Linked DNA regions of Homo sapiens. The protein of the gene in region 1 purifies or fractionates together with the protein of each later gene. This does not show direct contact. Each region holds a gene or a part of one and is shown on either strand. Other genes may lie near its edges. The genes, in order: SNU13, ZNHIT3 and ZC3H18.

What was found.
Region 2: the proteins of SNU13 (region 1) and ZNHIT3 purify together in Homo sapiens (affinity purification with western blotting; 2 studies listed by BioGRID). This does not show direct contact.
Region 3: the proteins of SNU13 (region 1) and ZC3H18 purify together in Homo sapiens (affinity purification with mass spectrometry; 2 studies listed by BioGRID and IntAct, with this or other methods). This does not show direct contact.

Annotation. Positions count from the first base shown.
Region 1 is NC_000022.11:41,673,433-41,679,854, reverse strand, and holds the end of SNU13 (NHP2-like protein 1), read left to right. Parts: intron 1-2,694; exon of another isoform or gene 2,695-2,729; coding exon of another isoform or gene 2,730-3,113; exon of another isoform or gene 3,114-4,653; intron 4,654-4,659; coding exon 4,660-4,922; 3' UTR 4,923-5,922; downstream 5,923-6,422. Other genes in the region: protein LLP homolog, read left to right, coding at 2,730-3,113.
Region 2 is NC_000017.11:36,481,070-36,489,990, forward strand, and holds the start of ZNHIT3 (zinc finger HIT domain-containing protein 3), read left to right. Parts: upstream 1-5,611; 5' UTR 5,612-5,630; coding exon 5,631-5,716; intron 5,717-5,865; coding exon 5,866-5,897; intron 5,898-8,921.
Region 3 is NC_000016.10:88,593,967-88,601,953, reverse strand, and holds part of ZC3H18 (zinc finger CCCH domain-containing protein 18), read right to left. Parts: intron 3,777-7,987; coding exon 3,628-3,776; intron 3,335-3,627; coding exon 3,242-3,334; intron 2,164-3,241; coding exon 2,006-2,163; intron 1-2,005.

The DNA.
Region 1 (6,422 bases):
CTACCCCTCTCCCTTTTTTTTTTGGATGCAATTATTCAAAAACATGGAACGTTTCACGAATTTGCATGTCATCCTTGTGCAGGGGTCATGCTAATCTTCTCTGTATTGTTCCAATTTTAGTATATGTACTGCTGAAGCGAGCACTACCTCCCTTTGTAAAAAAGGAAAAAAAAAAAGCTGTTTTTCAGTAGAATAATTATGTATGCATGATGCTTCTGCCCAGAGGTGATATAGGATACTCTCACTTTATTCATTATTATTTTTTTAATTTTATTTTATTTATTTATTTATTTTTTTATTTGGAGAGTTTTGCTCTTGTTGCCCAAGCTGGAGTGCCATGGCAGGATCTCAGCTTACTGCAACCTCCGCTTCCCGGGTTCAAATGATTCTCCTGCCTCAACCTCCCAAGTAGCTGGGATTACAGGCATGCACCACCACGTCCAGCTAATTTTGTATTTTTAGTAAAGATGGGGTTTCACTATGTTGGTCAGTCTGGTCTCGAACTCCTGATCTCAGGTGATCTACCTGCCTTGGCCTCCCAAAGTGCTGCTGGGATTACAGGCGTGAGACACTGTGCCCAGCCTTATTTTTATTTTTATTTTTTTTCAAGTAGAGACGAGGTTTCACCATGTTGGCCAGGCTGGTCTCGAACTCCTGACCTGAAGTGATCCGCCTGCCTTGGCCTCCCAAAATTCTGGGATTACAGGCGTGAGCCACTGTGCCCGGCTGCCCAGCCTTATTTTTATTTTATTTTATTTTTTTGGAGACAGAATCTCGCTCTGTCGCCCAGGCTGGTCTTAAACTCCTGAGCTCAGGCAATCTGCCTGCCTTGGCCTCCCAAAGTGTTAGGATAACAGCAGGCGTGAGCTACCATGCCCAGCCAGAATACTCTCATTTTAATAGATGCTGGGTAGTTTGATGTGGTAGAGCTCTTTTGTCGTTGAAGATTTTTAATGGAAACATCAGAGATTTTGTCAACTGTGTTTGAGATTTAGGAGAACTATTACAATCGCTTTTACCTGTGTTGCTGAAGGAAGATAAAGTAGACTCTGTGGGTCTCGTCGTAGTGCTCTTTCCTCCCTGCTCGTCACACTGCAGTAACTGCAGTGCCTGGTATAGCAGTGGCCAGTGGGGCATTGTAGGGTGACCCACCAGCTCTCCTGGGAGGTCTCTCTTCTCACTTGATGCACTCAGGTCAGCTTGGCTGGGCAGGGATGTGACTTCTTACACTTCAGGTAGATGAGGACTCATGGACACAGAGCAACCTTATTTCCTCTTGCCATACTTTGCACGGTGATAAGCACACAGGTCCTTGAATGGAGATGCTCAGTCTCAGCGACTTAATTCAGAATATGCTTACTGGGAGTTCAGGGAGGGAGATGCAACAATTTTCCGTACTTCTGCCTCAGTGTCAGGTATTCTTTCTTGCCATATTTATTGATTGCCTGCTATGTGCCAGGCGCATGTATATATGCTGATGATGCACTGGTGAACAAAATGAAGTCTCTGCCTTCTTGGAGTATACATTCCAGTGGAGAAAGACATAGGTTTTATGCCTGGTGGTAAAGAATGCTGTAAGAGGCCGGGCGCGGTGGCTCACACCTGTAATCCCAGCACTTTGGGAGGCCGAGGTGGGCAGATCATGAGGTCAGGAGATCGAGACCATCCTGGCTAACACGGTGAAACCTCATCTCTACCAAAAATACAAAAAATTAGCCGGGCGTGGTGGCGGGCGCCTATAGTCCCAGCTGCTCAGGAGGCTGAGGCAGGAAAATGGTGTGAACCCGGGAGGCGGAGCTTGCAGTGAGCCGAGATCTCACCACTGCACTCTAGCCTGGGCGACAGAGTGAGACTCCGTCTCAAAAAAAAAAAAAAGAATGCTGTAAAACAGAATAAAGTAGAGAAGGGGGATAGGAATGGCAGTGGTGGGTCTTTTTAGATGGAGTATTCAGAGAAGGTCTGTCTGAGGAGTTTGAGCAGAGAACTGAATAGATGAGGGTGTTGGAAAGAAACGTTTTTGGGCATGGTGTAAAGGCATGCTTGAGGGATTCTAAGGAGGCTGGTGTGTGGCTGGAACTAAGTGTGGGGATGAGAGGTACTAGGAGATCACATGAGACCATGTAGGCCACTGTTAGCAGTGAGTACAATGGTAAATGAGTAGAAGGATTTTGAACAGCAAGATTGCTATGATCTTACTTAACACTTATAAAAGAGTCACTCCTATGACTTTTGTAGGGTGAGTAAGCTATAGTAATATCAATAGAAATGAACATGCTTTGCATTTGCCATGTGTCAGGTATTATTATTATTATTTATTTTACTTTTTTTTGAGATAGGGTCTTACTCTGCAGCCCAGGCTGGAGTGCATTGGCATTGATCATGGCTCACTGCAGCCACGACCTCCTGGGCTTAGGTGATCCTCCCACCTCAGCGTCCCAGGTAGCTGGAACTACAGGTGTACGCCACCACACCTGGCTAATTTTTTATATTTTTAGTAGAGATGGGGTTTTGCCATGTTGCCCAGGCTGGTCTCAAACTCTGAGTTCAAACAATCTACCTGCCTCAGCCTCCCAGTGGGCTGGGATTACAGGTGTGAGCCACCATGCCCAGCCTCATCATTCTTATTAACTGGTTTAATCCTTTCAATAATCCTATTAAGTAGAATTATTAGGTAATTAGAATTAGGTTAAAAAGAGCTGAGGTGTGGGTGTTCGTTTCTCAGGTGAAACATGGCTAAAAGCTTACGGAGTAAGTGGAAAAGAAAGATGCGTGCTGAAAAGAGAAAAAAGAATGCCCCAAAGGAGGCCAGCAGGCTTAAAAGTATTCTCAAACTAGACGGTGATGTTTTAATGAAAGATGTTCAAGAGATAGCAACTGTGGTGGTACCCAAACATTGCCAAGAGAAAATGCAATGTGAGGTAAAAGATGAAAAAGATGACATGAAAAGGGAGACTGATACTAAGAGAAACAAAAAGACTCTTCTAGACCAGCATGGACAGTACCCAATATGGATGAACCAAAGGCAAAGAAAAAGGCTGACGGCAAAGCGAGAGAAAAGAAAGGGGAAAAGCAAAGCAAAAGCAGTGAAAGTGGCAAAGGGTTTGGCGTGGTAGACTCTTAAAACCTTGGAAAATGCCACATGGGATAGATGATGGATTAGAATGTATATACATGTATACTTTGATTTCAGCTGCCACCAAATGAAAACCATTTGTTTTCCTATTTTAACTTGGCCTTTTTTCTTCAATTCAAACCCAGCATAACTCCTGAAGTTTGTTTTGGGAACTTGAATAAAATATTTTCTTTGATACAAAAAAAAAAAAGAATTAGGTTAAAAAGAATTAGGTAATTCTTTTTTTATTAGGTAGAATCCTGTTAGGTAGAATTATTTTATAGATGATAAAAGTAAGGGAAGTTAAACACCTTGCTCAAGGTCATTTGTGTAACAAGAATGAGTGCCAGCATTTGCACTCAGACAGTGTAGCTCTAGAGTGTGTGCCCTTCTCAAGTACTCCAGCATGAATGCAGAGTATTCGCACTGAGCCACAGAGGCAAGCAGTCAGGAGAGTACGCATCTGAAACGGTGCTGTGGGGTGTTGAACTTGCATGGTGAGTCGCATGTGGGATCAGCTTTCTAGAAGTATTGATTATGGCAGATTGAGATGGTAAAACTCTGACTCTCAGTCACAGATACCTTGAGAAATACTATATTATTAATATACTACTACTTGCTGGTGGGGGTTTGTGGAAGCTGTTGCAGTTGACAAGGTAAGAGATGATGGTGACTTGGACGAGTATAGCAGAGGAGTAGAAAGAAGTGGTCAGGGCCAGGCGTGGTGGCTCATGCCTGTAATCACAGCACTTTGGGAGGCCAAGGTGGGTGGATCACAAGGTTAGGAGTTTGAGACCAGCCTGGCCAACATAGTGAAACAAAAAATTAGCTGGGCATGGTGGCAGGCACCTGTAATCCCAGCTACTTGGGAGGCTGAGGCAGGAGAATCACTTGAACCTGGGAGGCAGAGGTTGCAATGAGCCAAGATTGCGCCATTGCACTCCAGCCCGGGCGACAGTGTGAGACTCCATCTCAAAAAAAGAAAAAAAAAAAAAAAAGAAAGAAAAAAGTTGTCAGATTAGGACAGGCACAGTGGCTCATACCTGTAATTTCAGCACTTTGGGAGGCCGAGGTGGGTGGATCACTTGAGGTCAGGAGTTTGAGACCAGCCTGGACAACATGGTGAAGCCCTCTCTCTACTAAAAATACAAAAATTAGCTAAACACAGTGGCACGTGCCTGTAATCCCAGCTGCTTGGGAGACTGAGGCAGGAGAATCACTTAAACCCGGGAAGCGGAGGTTGAAGTGAGCCAAGATCGCACCACTGCACTCCAGCTGTGTGACAGAGCAAGACTCCATCTCAAAAAAAAAAAAGAAGAAGAAGAAGTGGTCAGATTCAGGACGTGTTTTGAGGATAAGTGGTGGATTTAATGTAGGGCTTGAGAAAATGCCATTGTGTATGACTGACTGGTGTTTGAATCCTTTATCATATCCCAGGGCCGGTCTAGGACACATAATTGTGTGTGCCTAGGCATTCTTCCCAGTTTGTTGTGGCTGCCCTGCCCAAGCCCACATCACCTATTAGCTTCACGTCCTTCTCTCCGCAGCCACCAAAACCCTCAACAGGGGCATCTCTGAGTTCATCGTGATGGCTGCAGACGCCGAGCCACTGGAGATCATTCTGCACCTGCCGCTGCTGTGTGAAGACAAGAATGTGCCCTACGTGTTTGTGCGCTCCAAGCAGGCCCTGGGGAGAGCCTGTGGGGTCTCCAGGCCTGTCATCGCCTGTTCTGTCACCATCAAAGAAGGCTCGCAGCTGAAACAGCAGATCCAATCCATTCAGCAGTCCATTGAAAGGCTCTTAGTCTAAACCTGTGGCCTCTGCCACGTGCTCCCTGCCAGCTTCCCCCCTGAGGTTGTGTATCATATTATCTGTGTTAGCATGTAGTATTTTCAGCTACTCTCTATTGTTATAAAATGTAGTACTAAATCTGGTTTCTGGATTTTTGTGTTGTTTTTGTTCTGTTTTACAGGGTTGCTATCCCCCTTCCTTTCCTCCCTCCCTCTGCCATCCTTCATCCTTTTATCCTCCCTTTTTGGAACAAGTGTTCAGAGCAGACAGAAGCAGGGTGGTGGCACCGTTGAAAGGCAGAAAGAGCCAGGAGAAAGCTGATGGAGCCAGGACAGAGATCTGGTTCCAGCTTTCAGCCACTAGCTTCCTGTTGTGTGCGGGGTGTGGTGGAATTAAACAGCATTCATTGTGTGTCCCTGTGCCTGGCACACAGAATCATTCATACGTGTTCAAGTGATCAAGGGGTTTCATTTGCTCTTGGGGGATTAGGTATCATTTGGGGAGGAAGCATGTGTTCTGTGAGGTTGTTCGGCTATGTCCAAGTGTCGTTTACTAATGTACCCCTGCTGTTTGCTTTTGGTAATGTGATGTTGATGTTCTCCCCCTACCCACAACCATGCCCTTGAGGGTAGCAGGGCAGCAGCATACCAAAGAGATGTGCTGCAGGACTCCGGAGGCAGCCTGGGTGGGTGAGCCATGGGGCAGTTGACCTGGGTCTTGAAAGAGTCGGGAGTGACAAGCTCAGAGAGCATGAACTGATGCTGGCATGAAGGATTCCAGGAAGATCATGGAGACCTGGCTGGTAGCTGTAACAGAGATGGTGGAGTCCAAGGAAACAGCCTGTCTCTGGTGAATGGGACTTTCTTTGGTGGACACTTGGCACCAGCTCTGAGAGCCCTTCCCCTGTGTCCTGCCACCATGTGGGTCAGATGTACTCTCTGTCACATGAGGAGAGTGCTAGTTCATGTGTTCTCCATTCTTGTGAGCATCCTAATAAATCTGTTCCATTTTGATGACAGAATGGCAGTGCCTGATTCTTAGTAAGTATCCGGCTAAAATTGGAATGAAGACATACTTAGCTTTACTAGAGTGGTGATAGCTGCTTAAGACTTTTTTTTTCTTCTTTGTGAAAGAGTTTCACTCTTGTTGCCTAGGCTGGAGTGCAATGGCACGATCTCGGCTCACTGCAGCCTCTGCCTCCTGGGTTCAAGTGATGCTCCTGCCTCAGCCCCCAAAGTAGCTGGGATTACAGGCGTGCGTCACCACGCCCAGCTAATTTTGTATTTTTAGTAGAGACAGGGTTTCACCATGTTGGCCAGGCTGGTCTTGAACTCCTGACCTCAGGTAATCTGCCTGTCTCAGCCTCGCAAAGCGCTGGGATTACAGGTGTGAGCCACCACGCCTGGCCACTTGCTTAGACTTTTTTTTACCAGAAGGCTATGGAAGAGCTGTCTCCTCCTACCAGGTAGTTTCTACCTTGGCAGTTCAAAATGTCGTCTTATACACACTCAACTGGAG
Region 2 (8,921 bases), on another chromosome or scaffold:
TTTTCTTTTTTGCTAGCTCCTCTCTTTTTTATTGAAGTACTACTCCACAATGCTGCCTTCTTTGAGACTAAGTACCCGATGCCATTTTACCTCCACAGTGGAGATAATAATATTAGACCATGTCACATATAGTGTAAGAGTCTTACCTAGTAACTTCTATTTCCCTCCATCATTTTTATGTTTTATGAAAATGTTATTACTTTCATATATTTAATTCTGCATGTGCTAAGAACTCCACACTGTACTGTTATATTTGCTTGAACCAGTTATCATTTAAAGAGATTAAAAAGGTAAAAATGGGCCGGGCGTGGTGGCTCACACCTGTAATCCCCAGCACTTTGGAAGGCCAAGGCGGGTGGATCACCTGAGGTCAGGAGTTCGAGACCAGCCTGGCCAACATGGTGAAACCCCGTCTCTACTAAAAATACAAAAATTAGCCGGGCGTGGTGGCGGGCACCTGTAGTCGTAGCTACTTGGGAGGCTGAGGCAGGAGAATCGCTTGAACCTGGGAGGCGGAGGTTGCAGTGAGCTGGGATCGCGCCATTGCACTCCAGCCTGGGTGACGGAATGACACATTGTCTCAAAAAAACAAAAAAAAAAAACAAAAAAAACCCCCAAAAAGTAAAAATGTTTTTTTGATTTTACCTATAGGTTTACAATTTTTGGTACTCCTTTGTGCAGATCCAAATTTCCATCTCATGTCATTTTCCTTTTGCCCGAATAACTAACATTTCTTGTAGCGTAGATCTGCTAGTGAAGAATCCTGTTGGGTTTTGTCTAAAAAAATCTGTTTCTTGTCCTCATTTTTAAATGATAAGGAAATAAACCTGGGGTCTCAGTTCCTCTTCCCCGCCCCTCACTGAGCAGAGTTCTTATGCACTGCTGCCATGTGGGAGGTGGAGATGGGTTCAGAGGTTTGTGAAAAGCTTGACGCGCTGCACGCCCACTCCACAGGGCACCTTTAGAGGCTTCTTGGGGAAGCTGGTCGGGTAGCTCTGACTCCTCGCATCTCTGTGTGTCCTTGGGAATGTCAGGTGGAAGATCGATGTGCATTTGCAAATGGGAGTGAGTGTGAGAAAAGAAAAATGTGGGGTTGTGGCTGGTAGGGTGTGTTCAGGGAGCAATGGTGACCTCTGTTGTCTGTGCTCTCCCAACAGTTCTGGGATTGTGGGGAATGCAATTGTTCTGTATCCCTTTTGTATTTTGGAAGTTCTCCGTGAAGTCTAACTGCAGGTCATATTGTCATTTAGTCTAGAGTTGGAGGATGGATATAATTTCATGAGTATGAAATAATATGCAGAGTTGTTGGACACCAACTGGGCCCACCCACTCCACCAGAACTCAGGTCTCCTTCATTTGACTCCCACCGGCAACGTCACTCACTTTAACACCTGAATTACTCTCTCTTAGATACCAGAGGGGAAACGGAGGCATGCAGGTGAGAACGTGGCAGCAGTCCCTAAAAGTCACTTCTGGTGCTGGCCCTGGCTCATCCGTGCCCTGGGGGAGAAATGCAAGTGTCAGAGCTGCGGAAAGGAGCTGAGATCTAGCAGGGCTCGCCCTTATCAACCTCCGCCTCTAACAAGGGCCACACAGCACGTAGGGGAGATTAGGCCGATCTGCCTGCCTCATCGCGGGAGGCCAGGAGGGTGGAAGGCAGCGGATCGCGCCCTAGCGAGCAACCCACATGCTCTGGAAGTGTGGTTCAACTTTCACCAGGCTACTGCGGGCGGCCGGCCAGCTGTCAGCGGGCACTCCGCCCCCAGGAGCTGTCCGCAAGCGCGGGGCGGTGGGCACCGCGGGGAACAGCCCCCGGACAGCCAGTGGCACGCGGAGACCTCGGAGAGCGCAGGCCCTGCTTTCCCGTAGGAACACTCGTGGGCATCGGGTCGCCCGCTTCGCCCCCGCGCTCTAGACGCACTTTCCTGCCGCCTGGCGATGTCCGAAGTGCATATCAGAGCATGGACTTGGTCTTCCCAGCGCTACCAGACCGCTGAGCCTCCCCGCACGTGGTGGGGCGCAGGCGGGGCGCCAGCTGCGCGGGAATCCGGGCGAGCGCGCTCCACCCGGGCAGTGCGGGCCTGGAGCGCCCTCTGGCGGGACGGTGCGCGGCGTTGCGCGTCTCCAGCCTTGGGATTGGCCCGGACTCGCCTTCAACGCACCGGACAGCGCTGCCAGGAGGCAGAGCTCTGAAAACCTCGACAACGACGCCTCTCTCTTCAGTGCCCGCACTGCGTCCCAGGCTGACGCCAAGGAGGCCCAAGACAGCCCTGGGTGGCCATTAGGACGGGTCTGGAGGGGACATCAGTGTGGACATCTAGTTGCTGGGCCTGGGGTCACAGCCCCCTTTCTTGTCTGAACTGGCCACTGCCCGGAGGAGCTGCGCTGTGCGCCTTAGTGTGCCACCACCTAACCGCCATCGCGGCTGAGCCCACCTCCTTTCCCGGACATTAGAGGACGAGGGGTGCGAAGGTCGGGGAAAGCTGGGGGCATCCAGATATCCAGAGTAGAGGAGGGGCCTCTTCCCTGCGTGGATGTGCATGGGAAGGATTCCAGGAATTTAATTTTCTTTTCTTTTGAGATGGAGTCTCGCTCTGTCACCAAGCTGGAGTGCAGTGGCGCGATCTGGGCTCACTGCAACCTCCGCTTCCCGGGTTCAAGGGATTCCCCTGCCTCAGCCTCCCTAGTAGCTGGGACTGCAGGCGCGTGCCACCACACCTGGCTAATTTTTTGTATTTTAGTAGAGACGGGGGTTTCACCATGTTGGCCAGGATGGTCTCGATCTCCTGACCTCGTGATCTGCCCGCCTTGGCCTCCCAAAGTGCTGGGATTACAGGCGTGAGCCACCGCGCCTGGCCGAATTTTCTTTTTTCTTTTTTTTTTCTGGAGTCATCATCTCTCCACTCGCAGATAGGGAGTCAGCGTGGTTTGTATGCAGGTGGGAGGGACTGAGCCCCTGAAAATGGTTAGGATTGTCTCTGGCCTCAGCCTTGGTACACACATCACAGGACAAATCAAGCAGACAGTGGTGAGTCCGCCACAGTGGGCAAATTTCTACCCGTGCCAGACAGTGTACAGGATCTTTTGTTTTTTTTTCTCTCTCTCTCTTCCTTTTGAGACAAGGTCCTGCTCTGTCACCCAGGCCGGAGTGCAGTGGCGTGATCTCCACTCACTGCAACCTCCACCTCCTGGGCTCAAGCGATTTTCCCACCTCAGCCTCCCCAGTAGCTGGGATTACAGGCTCAAGCCACTGCCCCCCGCTAATTTTTGTATCTTTTTGGGTAGAGATGGGTTTTTGCCATGTTGCCCAGGCTGGTCTTGAACTCCTGGGCTCAAGCCATGTGCCCGCCTTGGCCTCCCAAAGTGCTAGGATTACTGGCGTGAGCCACCTTACCTGGTGGGGCACAGGATTTTAAATTAAATTTTTTTTTTTTTAATTTTTAGAGACAGAGTCTTGCTCTGTCGCCCAGGCTGGAGTGCAGTGGCATGATCTTGGCTCACTACAATCTCTGCCTCTAGAGTTCCGGCGATTCTTGTGCCTCAGCCTCTCTAGTAGTTGGGATTACAGGCGTGCACCACCACACCCAGTTAATTTTTTCTATTTTTAGTACAGACAGGGTTTTGCTATGTTAGCCAGGCTGGTCTTGAACTCCTGGCCTCAAGTGATCTGCCTGCTTTGGCCTCCCAAAGTGCTGGGATCACAGGCGTGAGCCACTGCGCCTGGCCTAAATTTTTCGTCTTTAAGACGGGGTCTCTCTCTCTCTGTCATCCAGGCTGGAATGCAGTGGCACAATCATAGCTCACTGCAGCCTTGAACTCCTGGGCTCAAGTGAGCCTCCAGCCTCAACTTTCTAAGTAGCTGGGACTACAGGCTGATGCGACCATGCCCGACTTGGCACAGGATTTAAATATGGCCCTGGACAAGTCACTGGCCTTCTCTGGCCTTCCCAGGTAAGCTTGGACTTTCTGGGATGCTTCAAGTTCAAATCATCAGTGGTACAACTGTTGAACAATATGAGGAACGCTGCGGGTTACTGGGCCTGTGTGGACCCGTTTTGGATTCTAAGCTGGGTCCTGGGCAGAAGTTGGAGGCTGGGGCAGCTGCAAGCAGGACAGGCAGGTGGCCAGAGGGCCCAGCAGCTTCAGCACTGAGGACTGGACTGGGTCGCCACGCCCAAAGGAAGGATAATTACTCACCTCCCACTCAAGAAGCAGGCGGCAGAACTGTTTTGGAGAGCATGGCTTGGGGCCTGGGACCTATGTTCATGCGGTCCAGACGGAGATCCATGAGAGTTAAGACTCTTTCTAGATATCAGGTAGCACTTCTGATTACAAAACTTTTGCACATGGTCTCCTCTCTGCTTTACAACAGCTCAGGAAAGTAGGCCCAAACATCCACTTTAATAGATGAGGGAGCTCAGAGGGGGTAACCAACCCCTCCAGGTCACACAGCCAGGGAGGGGGTTGAGCCAAGGTTCAAACCACTGCCTCGGTTGTTGCAGATACATCCCTGCAGACACCTTTATTGAAGAGGGACCCTGAAGGCTGAACGGCCAACACAGAAGAGGAGGCACTTGGGAGTAAGGGTGATTTATGGCCCTGGGAGGGCCCAGTGCAGGTAGGATGGGAGCTAAGGTAAGGCTGGGCCATGCCTAGCTGCAAGCAAATTTCCTTAAAAAACAAACAACAAAAAACATTACTTTTTCTAAACCTAAAGTTTGTGGTGGCATTCAAGTCCCATCATAGCCCATCTATCCAGACTCATCTGCCTGGGATCCCCGTCTTGGGACTAGTGGTCACTGGCCTGCTTCCTGGTCAATTAGCTTCCGGGACTAGGGGGAGGTGTGAGGAGCCTAGAGTGCAAAATTTAAGAAGCACTCAGTCTCAGGGGCGTGCAGGTGCAGGGTAGCGACGGCAGGACTCTAAGAGTGAGTCTCTTTCCTCCCCGTTTCCCCGTCCTACTTTCACTCTAAGCATTTAGTTCCCAGGGGACAGAGACGACTTCTTCATTAGAAGACCCCGGGGGGTCCCCAGCCCGGAAGGGCTCACAGTTGGAGCTCAAACATTTGCCACTGTTCAGGCTCATCTTTCTTTCCCCAGTGAAAAATGGTCTAGGTTGGGAAGGGCAGGTTCCTGTCTACTGCGTGATCCAACCGATTCTGGTTCGCCCAATGTCTGGACTTGTCCTTTGCCAAGAATAAGCAGATGAGATGGGCGGATGAACCCCAATGTCCCTGCAAGATTCAGGAAGTCCCAGCCAGAAAGTAAAGGACGTTTAGTTCCATGTATTGTTTTCTTTTTTACATGCGGGGCAACACACCTGGACAGTGTCGATGGCTTGCTCCAAGCCACACGGCCGCATAGGGACAGGGACTGGGCTACATAACAAGTTCTTCGACGCTGTGATCTAATCAAGGAAAACCTGGGACGCAGCTAATAGATGCGCATCGAGTGTATCGACGCTCTAAGTACGAGGGCTGGAACAGTGAGCAGGATCAGTCCATTGCTTTTGCCTACCTGCTGAGCGCTGATTGGTCCCCGTTTAGGAAACGGAAAAAGGGGCGTGCACGCGGGCGCGGCTGCGTGAGAGGCGCGCGGCGGCGCAGTGAACAGTCTCCTTCCACAAAACCATGGCGTCGCTCAAATGTAGCACCGTCGTCTGCGTGATCTGCTTGGAGAAGCCCAAATACCGCTGTCCAGCCTGCCGCGTGCCCTAGTGAGCGGGGAGGTCGCGGGGTCCAGGGGCGCGGGTGTCCGGCCATGGCGGGAGGGCGGGAGGCCGGGAGGCCGGGCGGGAGCGGGCGGGCTGCTGGAGGGGCCGGGGACCCTCGGGGCTGACGCGGCCTGTGGCCTCTGTTGTTACAGCTGCTCGGTAGTCTGCTTCCGGAAGCACAAAGGTGAGCCCCGTCCCCGCCAGCCCTCGTACCACTGCGCACGGGGCAGCCCCCACGTCCAGCCTCCGTCTTGGGGGCGTGGACCCTTGGGCTGCGCTTCCTTTCCCGCCTCGGGTCTCCGCGGGTTCTGCAGGAACCTTGCTTCCTCTGACTTGGTCCCTGGTGTCTCTGTGTGTCGGACAGTTCCCTCTGTTGTCCCTGCCTGTAATCGCTCTCAGGGTTTTGGTCAGTAGCCTTTCTTCTACCCCGCTTCTCCTTCTGCGTGTTACTCTTTTTTGCTTAGAAATAGTTTCCGATTGCTTTTCCCACCGAGGTCTACCCTAGCAGTTTCTTCCTCAGTATTCTGATGTAGCCCCTCACCATTTGGCTGAAACTGCGCTAACTTTAACAGTATTTTCACTCGTGTAAATAATGTCTTGTTAGAAACAAAGAGGTAAGTCCATGTACAATACAAGGAGACGTCCTTGATTTGTTAAGAGAAAAAAAGAACCAAGTAAGTTCTGTGTATGATGTGAACACACTTTTGTACAGTTAAAAAGAAGTGACCTGGCCGGGCGCGGTGGCTCACGCCTGTGGTCCCGGCACTTTGAGAGGCCAAGGCGGGTGGATCACCTGAGCCCAGGAGTTCGAGACCAGCCTGGCCAACATGGTGAAACTCCGTCTCTACTAAAAATACAAAAATTAGGCGGGCGAGGTGCGCGCCTGTAATCCCAGCTACTCAGGAGGCTGAGGCAGGAGAATCGCTTGAACCCGGGAGGCGGAGGTTGTAGTGAGCCGAAATCGCACCACTGCACTCCAGCCTGGGCTACAGAGCCAGACTCAGTCTGGAAAAAAAAAGAAAAAAAAAAGTTTGATGTAGGTGGGGCGCGGTGGGTCACGCCTGTAATCCCAGCACTTTGGGAGGCCGAGGCGGGCGGATCATTTGAGCTCAGGAGTTTGAGACCAGCCTGGGCAACATAGCGAAACCCCGTCTCTATAAACAAACAAAGCCAGGCGTGGTGGCCTGTGCCAGTGGTCCCAGCTACTCAGGAAGCAGAGGTGGGAAGATCGCTTGAGCCTGGGAGGAGGAGGTTGCAGTGAGCCAGGATCGTACCACTGCACTCCAGCCTGGGAGACAGCAAGACTGTCTCAAAAAAAAAAAAAAAAAAAGCTTGATGTAGATTCTTTCAGCTTATTTCCACTCTTGTACCAATATATAGAACTTTTTTTTTTAGCTTTTAGAATCTCAGCAATGAGACTGTACCCAACATCCTCATTTGAGTTTATATATTGGGCACTTTTTAAAACCTAGTGCATACAGGCTGGGCGCAGTGGCTCATGCCTGTAATCCCAGCACTTTGGGATGCCAAGGTGGGTGGATCACCTGAGGTCAGGAGTTCGAGACCAGCCTGGCCAACATTATGAAACCACATCTCTACTAAAAATACAAAAATAAGCTGGGTGTGGAGGTGCGCGCCTGTAATCCCAGCTACTTAGGAGGCTGAGGCAGGATAATTGCTTGAACCATGGAGACGCAGGTTGCAGTGAGCCAAGACTGCACCACTGCACTCCAGCCTGGGCAACAGAGTGAGACTCCATCTAAAAAAAAATTAAAAAAATTAAAAATAAAGACTAGTGCATACAAGTTCTAGCTCACTGACTTAAAGGACTGTATGTTATTTCATTATATAGTTGGTACGACCATTATTTATATAAAGCCTCCTATTGGTTGATTTTTCTTTTTAATATTTGTTTTTAATTGACACATAATTGCATACAATTTGAGTTACAGTGTGATACTTCGATACCTGTATACAATGTTTAAGGATCAAATTAGGGTAATTAGCATATTCGCCCCAAATAATCATTTCTTCATGTTGGGAACACTCGCAATCCTCTCTTGTAGCTATTTGAAAGTATAAATTGCTGCCAACATGGTCACACTAAGGTACTGTGTAACACTAGAACTTATTCCTCCCATCTAGCTGTAATTTTGTATCCATTAAGCAACTTCTCCCTAGCCCCCTACACTCTACTCTTCCTAGCCTCCAGTTACCACTATTCTGCTCTCTACTTCTGTGAAATCAACTTGCTTAGCATCCACATGTTAACAAGAACATCTTATGGTGCCTGGCTTGTTTCACTTAACATTATGTTCTTTGGGCTCATCCATGTTCCTGCAAGTGACAGGATTTCATGGTTTTTTATGGCTAATATCCAGTGTATATATGTACCGCATTTCTTTATCCATCTGTTGGTGGATCCTTAGGTTCATTCCTTATCTTGGCTGTTGTGACTAGCAGTAAACGCAGGAGTGCAGGTATCTCTTCGGCAGACTGATTTCATTTCCTTTGGATATATATACAGTAGTGGGATTGCTGGATCATATGGTAGTTCTATTCGTAGTTTTTTTTTAGGAACCTCTATGCTGTTTTCCATAATGACTATACTAATTTACATTCCCAATAACAGTGCAGTGTATAAGAGTTCCCTTTTCTCCACATCCTTGCCAACATGTTTTTTTCTTTTTGATAATAGCCATTCTTACTGTGGTGAGATGATACCTCATTGTGGTCTTGACTTGCATGTCCCTAATAATTAGTGATGTTGAACATTTTTTCATGTACTTGTTGGCCATTTATATGTCTTCTTTTGAGAAGTGTCTGTTTGGCTCATTTGCCCATTTTTTTTTTTTTTCTTTTTGAGACAGAGTCTTGCTCTTGTCGCCCGGGCTGGAGTACAGTGGCGCAGTCTCTGCTTACTGCAACCTCCGCTTCCAGGGTTCAGGTGATTCTCCTGCCTCAGCCTCCAAAGTAGCTGGGATTACAGGTGCCTGCTGGCTGATTTTTGTATTTTTAGTAGAGACAAGGTTTCACCATGTTGGCCAGGCTGGTCTTGAGCTCTTGACCTCAGGTGATCCACCTGCCTCGGCCTCCCAAAGGGCTGGGATTACAGGGGTGAGCCACCATGCCCGGCCCATTTGTCCACTTAATTTTTTTTTTTTTTTTTTTTTGGCTGTTGAGCTCCTTGTGTATTCTAGATATTAAT
Region 3 (7,987 bases), on another chromosome or scaffold:
TGACAATCATAGGGGGGTCTCCACCCTCCTGGCAGAACCCTGACAGTTCTTTCCACTGTGTCTATCAGAAACAGCCAGGGCACCTCGCCACTGTGACACATGCACCCTGACCCTGTTCCCAGAGGTCCTGACTCACCAGGTCTCGGGGGAGGCATGGCACAAAAGGCCTCAGGTTAACTGTAACATACACAGAGGCTACTCTATAAAAACAAACAAAATACAAACATACAGAAATACCTGGCTTTCAGACACCAGTGAAAACCTTTCAGCCCTGACTGCCGAGACTTTAACATTTGGGGGTCCTGCAGTGTAGATACCGGCTCCTGGGAGAGAAGCTAGGGAGCCAGGAGCCAGCTTCTGTCACCTGGTGCCAGGATGGGAGACACCTGTTTCTGTAACCAACACTGATAGGTAAAACACACACAGAGGGCACTCCAAAAAACCTCAGAGACCTGCCGAACCACTTCCAAGCAGGCAGTTTTCCGGTCCCTGCTCCAGCCAGGGAAACTGGAAATAGAGTGTCAAGGATCACGCCCAGGTTCTAAAATCCATCCTTCCCCACACATATTTATAGAGACCTCTGTGCACACGAGCTCTGGGGAAGGAAAGACGATATCCACATCTAACAAAAAAACACAAAGGCCTCCAGGGCTTCAGGAGACACCCCTGGTGATCCTGCAGAGTTCTGACTCAAATGCTCCTTTCTGTGATCTGACATTCCACACAAAACTTAATTAGAAAATGTACATGTTAACCAAGTCTTTAAATACCTATCCCTTTAACCTCTAAGCTCTCACCTGCTGGGGCAGGTGTGGGCCACTGGGGCTTCCTCCCCCAACTTCCGCAGGCGGAAAGCCCAGGGTAGCCTGCTCGCGGCAAGAAGGCCTTGAGAAGGGCCTTGCAGGGCCAAGTCGACAGGACCAAATCCTGGAGTGCAAGCCCTGCACGCCTTCCTTTTTTGAGCACCGTTTATTGTCACTCCAGATAGAAATCATAGTGATTATGATTCCCTAATAGCAACCAGAAATGTACAGGGCTGCTAAAGCCTCAGCATGATGGAGTGCCAATTCAGATCTGCCCGAATTATAATCCAGTTCCCTGCCCTGAACCTCACCGTGCCATCCACAGGCAGAGGAAAACAGCACTTTATATGCCATGCAATCCCCCAAGATCTGACTTCCACCCTTCGACCCAGGCACTTCTTCTGTTAAGACAGGATTTTTAAAGACCAGGCATAAAGGGGCTGGGTGCAGTGGTTCACGCCTGTAGTCCCAGCACTCTGGGAGGCAGGCGTGGGTGGATCACTTGAGGTCAGGAGTTCGAGACCATCCTGGCCAACATGGTGAAATCCATCTCTACTAAAAACACAAAACTGAGTTGGGTGTGGTAGCAGACACCTGTAGTTCCAGCTACTCAGGAGGCTGAAGCAGGAGAATCACTTCAACCCAGGGAGGCGGAGGTTGCAGTGAGCCAAGATTGCGCAACTGCACTCCAGCTTGGGCGACAGAGCAAGACTCTGCCTCGGGAAAAAAAACCAAAAAACAAAAACCAGCCATCAATGCCCTGGAGGAGAAGCAGTGAAGGCAGAACAGCCCTGACAGCGAAGAGGCCGCAGCTGTTGTGTTCCTGGCTTGTGGCAACCTCCACACGTTTCCTGGCTCCTGGGTAATGTGGGCAGGGGTGAGGAGCCAGAAACACAGACTTGTGGGGCTCTAGAGGCCTCAAGGACAGCAGCGAAAACTCTCAGAGCTCAGGAACCACAACGGTGTGAGTGCTGCCAGTCAAGGCCCATGGCACAGAGCCCTAACGCTTCCTTCCTAGAAGCAAAAAACTGAGATGAGCTCTGAGAACCGTGCCTGAATGCTCTCAGGAACGTCACTGAGACTCCAGTGAGTGGGGCTGGGTCTCAGCCGAGCGCACCCTGGGGCCCTGCACATGGCTGCTCTCTCCGGAGCGTGGCCGCATGCAGGAAGGAAACGGAGGGGCAGGCAGGGCCATTCCTTACACTGTGTCTCTGACATCTCTCGGGATCCGAGAATTCCAATCTCGAAAAACTTCATTTTCTTTGTCAAATTCCCGTTCGTCTTCGCCAATGGTCACCGTAAACCTTTTCTCTTCAAAATCAGGCTCCTGTTCTTTTCGAATAGTTGCTTTTTTTAAAACCTACCATTGTAAGAAGAAAGAAGTCAACATGGAACAGAATACCGGGCGTCGCTGTTAGGAAACACAAAGGGAGCCGTCCCACCCGACCGCAGCAGCCCTGCAGGAGCAGGAGCTGCACGCTGCAAGTGCTCAAGGGGTGAGGGGCGGACACAGCACAGTTGTCCTTCTGGGGAGGGCAGTCTGTGCCCGTCTCTGCACAAACAGCTGCCCCCGGCCTCCGTGTGCCCACATGAGGTGTTCATCACTTCCTTCAACTACCCTTGGAACTAGATCCAGGGTTCAGTCACTCAGTGACAAGCAGCAGGTGGAGTGGCTGGAGTCTCAGAGGGAAGGAAGTGACATGCCGAGGGAGTGAGAAGGAACATCTTGTCCGTCATTTCCCAGCAGGGAGGCTGACCAGGAAAATGAGGAAGTGGGGCTGGGTGCCAGCAGAGTGGTCCCCAGAGCTGAAGCTCACACACTGGGGCCAACGTGGGCCTAGAGGGAGGAAGTGTGCAGTGATAGGACCAGAAAGCTCCAAGTTTTCTCCAGGAAGAGCAGACACTGAGTCTCAGGAGTGTGGGGTGCAGATCCTGGGGGTGCGGCTCGGGCAGCCTCGCCAGGCTTTCTGTGAGTGGCTGGAGACTGCACCCTGTGCTCCTGGGCAGTGCCAGCTGGGGTGTGGCCCAGTGCTGATCCAGCCCCATGAAGACAGTGGGTATGCCCTGGACTGAACTCCCTGGCCTACTGGGCTGCTGCCTGAGACAGTTAGATATAACTCTCCATCCTTCCGGGCCTGGTGGCGCATGCCTGTAATCCCAGCTACTTGGGAGGCCGAGCAGGAGAATCACATGAACCTGGGAGGCGGAGGCTGCAGTGAGTCGAGTTTGGGCCATTGCACTCCAGCCTGGGCAACAAGAGTGAAACTCTGTCTCCAAAAAAATAAATAAATAAAAAATAAAGAAAGACACCACAGAAACAGACGCCTAACTTCAGAGATTTCTGGGGCTCTCTCTGGACCGAGGAAATCCCAGTTTTGTCAAGAACCACTCCTGTAATAGCATCTTTCTTGTCGGGATTTCTGCTGAATTGTGTTTACCTCCTTTGCATGCCGGAGTCCTCGTTCCCAGGCACTCTCTGTTGGGGGCTCTGGAGGGGGTGGAGGCAAAATTTCATCAACTACCGGCCCACCCTATTGAAAAACGAGAAGGGAGAAGGTGAGAAAGTAAAACTTTCAAGTGTACAGAGAAACCAGACAGTAAAAACATCAACTACAACACAAGCCGGCCGTGTGTGGCCGCTCTCCTTCCACCAAGCCTCACTCCGTCCTCGGAAAGCCGAGGCCTGCTTCCACTCGGGACGACAGAAGCAGCCGAAAGGGGGCACTGAGCCTGTGCTAAGGCACAGTGACTTGTCTTAAGCTTGAGATTCAGACACAGCTCAGTTGGCTGATGTGCTAACAATGAAAGAAGAGGCATCACGCACCCAAGGGTTGGCGGGCATCAGCGGGTGAGGTCCGAGAGGCGGGGCACCATTAGGCGGGAAGGGGTCGGCTTTGGTGATTAGGGAGTAGTTCCCCTTGTCGTTCACTCCAGGGTGTATAAACCTACAATTCATTCCCCAGGTACAGTTCCCTATGGAAACAAAAGTGAGATCAGAAAGGGTCCACAAGAGCCTAATTGCACAAGGGCAGCTGCTGGGGTGGGGGGTGGGAGGGGGCAGAGGCCATGTTTACCCAGGCCTGATGGCGAGCCACACAGTAGTGGGAACTGAACGGGGAGGTGGGCGGGATGAGCCTGGAGAGGCTGAGCCAGACAGCTGCACCTGCCCAGGCACGGCAGTTCCCCAGAGGCTGCCAGGCACCTCGGTCAGAGTGACCACAAAGTCACTTTGTGGAGAGTTCACGCGTATCAACTGTCTGAGTATTAATTTTCCCCTTAAACCAGAAAAGCCCCAGAGCTTTGCTTCCAGCCCTGGCCCAGGCTCATCTAGGTACAACTGGATGTTAATTGTATTTGTGCCGAAACAGACATCAATGAGAAGCATTAACAATGATCAGAAGCCTGCAGGTGTGCTCAGGGTCCCCTTGGCCACCTCTGTACGTCTGCATTTCTCTCACAGAGAAAACTCTCACAGGGCATTTCAAGATATTTCTGGAACTGAAACGGGCTTTTACACTTTGCTCATAAATAACAATCACAAACCTTCATCTTCAACAGAATATCCGGGTTAGTAAAGGAGACCTCGACTTTCAAGTGTAGAATATAAGACATCTAAGTGTCTAACTCAATTACTGAGTGAATCACTTTTTTAAAATGTACTTTTTTGGGAATAGATAATGTGTACACATTGTTTAAAACCAAATATGGCATATAGTATCTAAGCGGTTTAAAAATTTTTTTCAATGGGTTAACATGCAGTTAGATTTTAAATCATTTAAAATTTTAACCTTAAACATCAGGAACACTTAAGCCTGCATTAAAACCAACTCAATACAACATAATAACAATATCGATCCAAATTAAACACGAAAGAAAACTTAAAACTGCTTCTCTGGAAATGCAAAAATGACAAGTAATTTTTAAAATTTCTAAAAGCATTTCAGAGATCACACATAAGTCAAACGAAGTTGGGAGGCCAGGCGTGGTGGCTCACGACGTCAAGAGATCAAGACCATCCTGGCTAACATGGTGAAACCCCGTCTCTACTAAAAAATACAAAAAATTAGCCGGACGTGGTGGCAGGTGCCTGTAGTCCCAGCTACTTGGGAGGCTGAAGCAGGAGAATGGCGTGAACCCAGGAGGTGGAGCTTGCAGTGAGCCGAGATCGTGCCACTGCACTCCAGCCTGGGCAACAGAGCGAGTCTCTCTCAAAAACAACAACAAAAAACAAAAGAGGTTGGGAAATGTTATTCTATAGGGGGTTCAAAAATCCAGAGCCTCAGAGAGATTTAAAGAAAAACTGACTATGCAGTCATCCATCTGAGACTCAACACACTACAGAGCTCTTCATGGTTTGCCTCTGAAAATACTCATGCAGTATTCAAAATCACGTGTGTAACTAAACAAGTAACAAAAGCTCATTGTAAAAAATGTCCAAGTACAGAAAAGTGCTGACAATAGAAACCACAGCTTTTCTGTACTCCTTTTCCTTTTTTTTTCAGATGGAGTCTCACTCTGACTGAGTGAGACAGTCCCAGGCTGGAGTGCAATGATGCAATCTCGGCTCACTGCAACCTCCACCTCCTGGGTGTCAGTGATTCTCCTGCCTCAGCCTCCTGAGTAGCTGGGATTACAGGCGGGTACCACCATGCCAGGCTAATTTTTGTATTTTTAGTAGAGACGGGACTTCACCAACTTGGTCAGGCTGGTCTCGAACTCCTGACCTTGTGATCTGCCAGCCTCGGCCTCCCAAAGTGCTGGGATTACAGGCGTGAACCACCACACTCGGCCTCTGTACTTCTTTTTCATCTAAAATATGTATCTGGGTGGTGGCTAAATGTTATCGTTCTTTTCTGTATTTATGAAAATTTTTAGGACATCACCTACGAACCTACTATCAAAAAAGATCCTTTCTCACTGATATTGGCATGGGGAGAAAAGAGGAACAAGGCAGAAGAGAACAAACCAGTGAGCGCCAAAGAGCAAGCTGAGAAGGCGAGCGTGGGGCTGCCACTAGAGACCAGACACTAGTGGGTGACAGTGTTCAGCTCTCGGGAGCCACCTGCCCGGGGGTGCTGAGCGCTGTCCTGCCCCTGGCCAGAGTAAAGGGGAAGATGGCTCTGGAAAGCAGCACAGTTGGTCTGCACGTCTAGCTGGGACACACTTCCAGCAGACGTCAGGCAGAAAGAACACCATTGTCCCATCTATCTTTTTAAAATGTGAACTTTTATCTGTGTAGGAACACACCCAACTGTCGGGAATGTGGGAAGGGGCTTTAGATTTTATTTTCTTGCCTTCTGCCAGCCCATATTACTTTCTTTCCTTTTTTTAATTTTTTTTTTTTTGAGATGGAGTCTCGCTCTGTTGCCCAGGCTGGAGTGCAGTGGAGCGACCTAGGCTCATTGCAACCTCTGCCTCACAGTTCAAGCAACTCTCCTGCCTCAGCCTCCCGAGTAGCTGGGATTACAGGTGTGCACCACCAAGCCCGGCTAATTTTTGTATTTTTAGTAGTGACAGGGTTTCGCCATGTTAGCCAGGCTGGTCTCAAACTCCTGAAGTCAGGTGATCCGCCCACCTCGGCCTCCCAAAGAGCTGGGATTACAGGTGTCAGCTACCGTCCCCAGCCTTACTTTCATAATTTAAAAAGCAATTTGTTAAAAAAAAAAAAAAAAAAAAGAAAGAAAGAAATTATCCAGAAAATAGAAGCAACAATAAAGATCTTCTGGTTTACAAATGGGACTTCAAACCCAAAATTTATGTGGATTGTGATTCTAACAGTATAAAGATAGTTCTGCGGATACTGTGTACACAGACATGGCCTCAGGCCAGAAGAGGACAAGGAGGGACAGAGGCCGCTGGAGCGGGGCGGAGGCGGCCCCTCCACTGCTGAAATGTCTAAGTACTATTTCTGGCTTCAAGACAGGATGATGGTCTTTTTCTTAACTGGAATGTCGGCACAGCAGCAACTGGTTTTTCTTTTGTTTTGTTTTTGTTTTTTTGAGATGGAGTTTTGTTCTTGTTGCCCAGGCTGGAGTGCAATGGCACAATCTCAGCTCACTGCAACCTCCGCCTCCCAGGTTCAAGTGATTCTCCTGCCTCAGCCTCCCGAGTAGCTGGAATTACAGGCATGCACCACCACGCCTGGCTAATTTTGTATTTTTAGTAGAAACGAGGTTTCTCCATGTTGGTCAGGCTAGTCTTGAGCTTGCGACCTCAGGTGATCCGCCCGCCTCGGCCTCCCAAAGTGCTGGGATTACAGGCATGAACCACCACGCCCAGCCAACTGTTTTATTCTCTTATTAATCTTTACGCTTGTGTAAACACTGTATTATTTTATATATATGAAATATTTCATAATCAAATGAAATACTTGTAAATAAAAAATACCCACCCACTCTAAAAGGTACACTGTGAAGTTGACCACCTATCCCATGCCTCCAGGGCCATTCCCAGAGGCAGTTATCAATATACTGGGGCTCCATCCATCAATCATTGCCCCCTTTTACCTGAGCATATATATTATGCTCTGTGCTGAACCTTGCTTTTTTTCACTAAACAATGTAACTACAGAAAGGGAACCTGCATGCTCAGTAGCAACCAACCCAAACTGGATCAGGGAAACAGACAGGAAACAGATAGGAAACATGGAAAATCCGGAAACTAAACACAGAGGTGGCAGGAACTGAGGCTCAGCTCATGCTCCAGCACAGCCCACACATGAAGTATCTTTAAATGTCTCTTCTGATTTTGAATACAGTAAATATCAATTCCCTGTGTTTACTTGGTTTATATGTGTCATTTCTATTGATACGTACGATATTAGAAATTAAGAGACACTTAAAGATATCTCATTATTTAACAATAACAAGATATCCAATATATAGTAACAAATATTTATGAAACTGTTTTTAAAATATTTGGTGAGAGGAATAGCATTCTTTGCCTTTTTGCGAATCTCTTGAATGCTGACCCTGGAAAACCCCTGGCCTCCCATCTGCATGCGATCGACCATGAAGGGCCGCTGTGGCTCAAGCAGGAGAGGACATTACAGCCCCAGGAAGAGATGCAGCTAGAGAGGGAGGGGCATCTAAAAGCCTTTTCAGTGTGCTCAGAGCTTCTCCCTGACACCGCACTCAGCAAGGGAAGGCTCCTTACAGCGAGCTGCAATTGAACCCTATCACCAC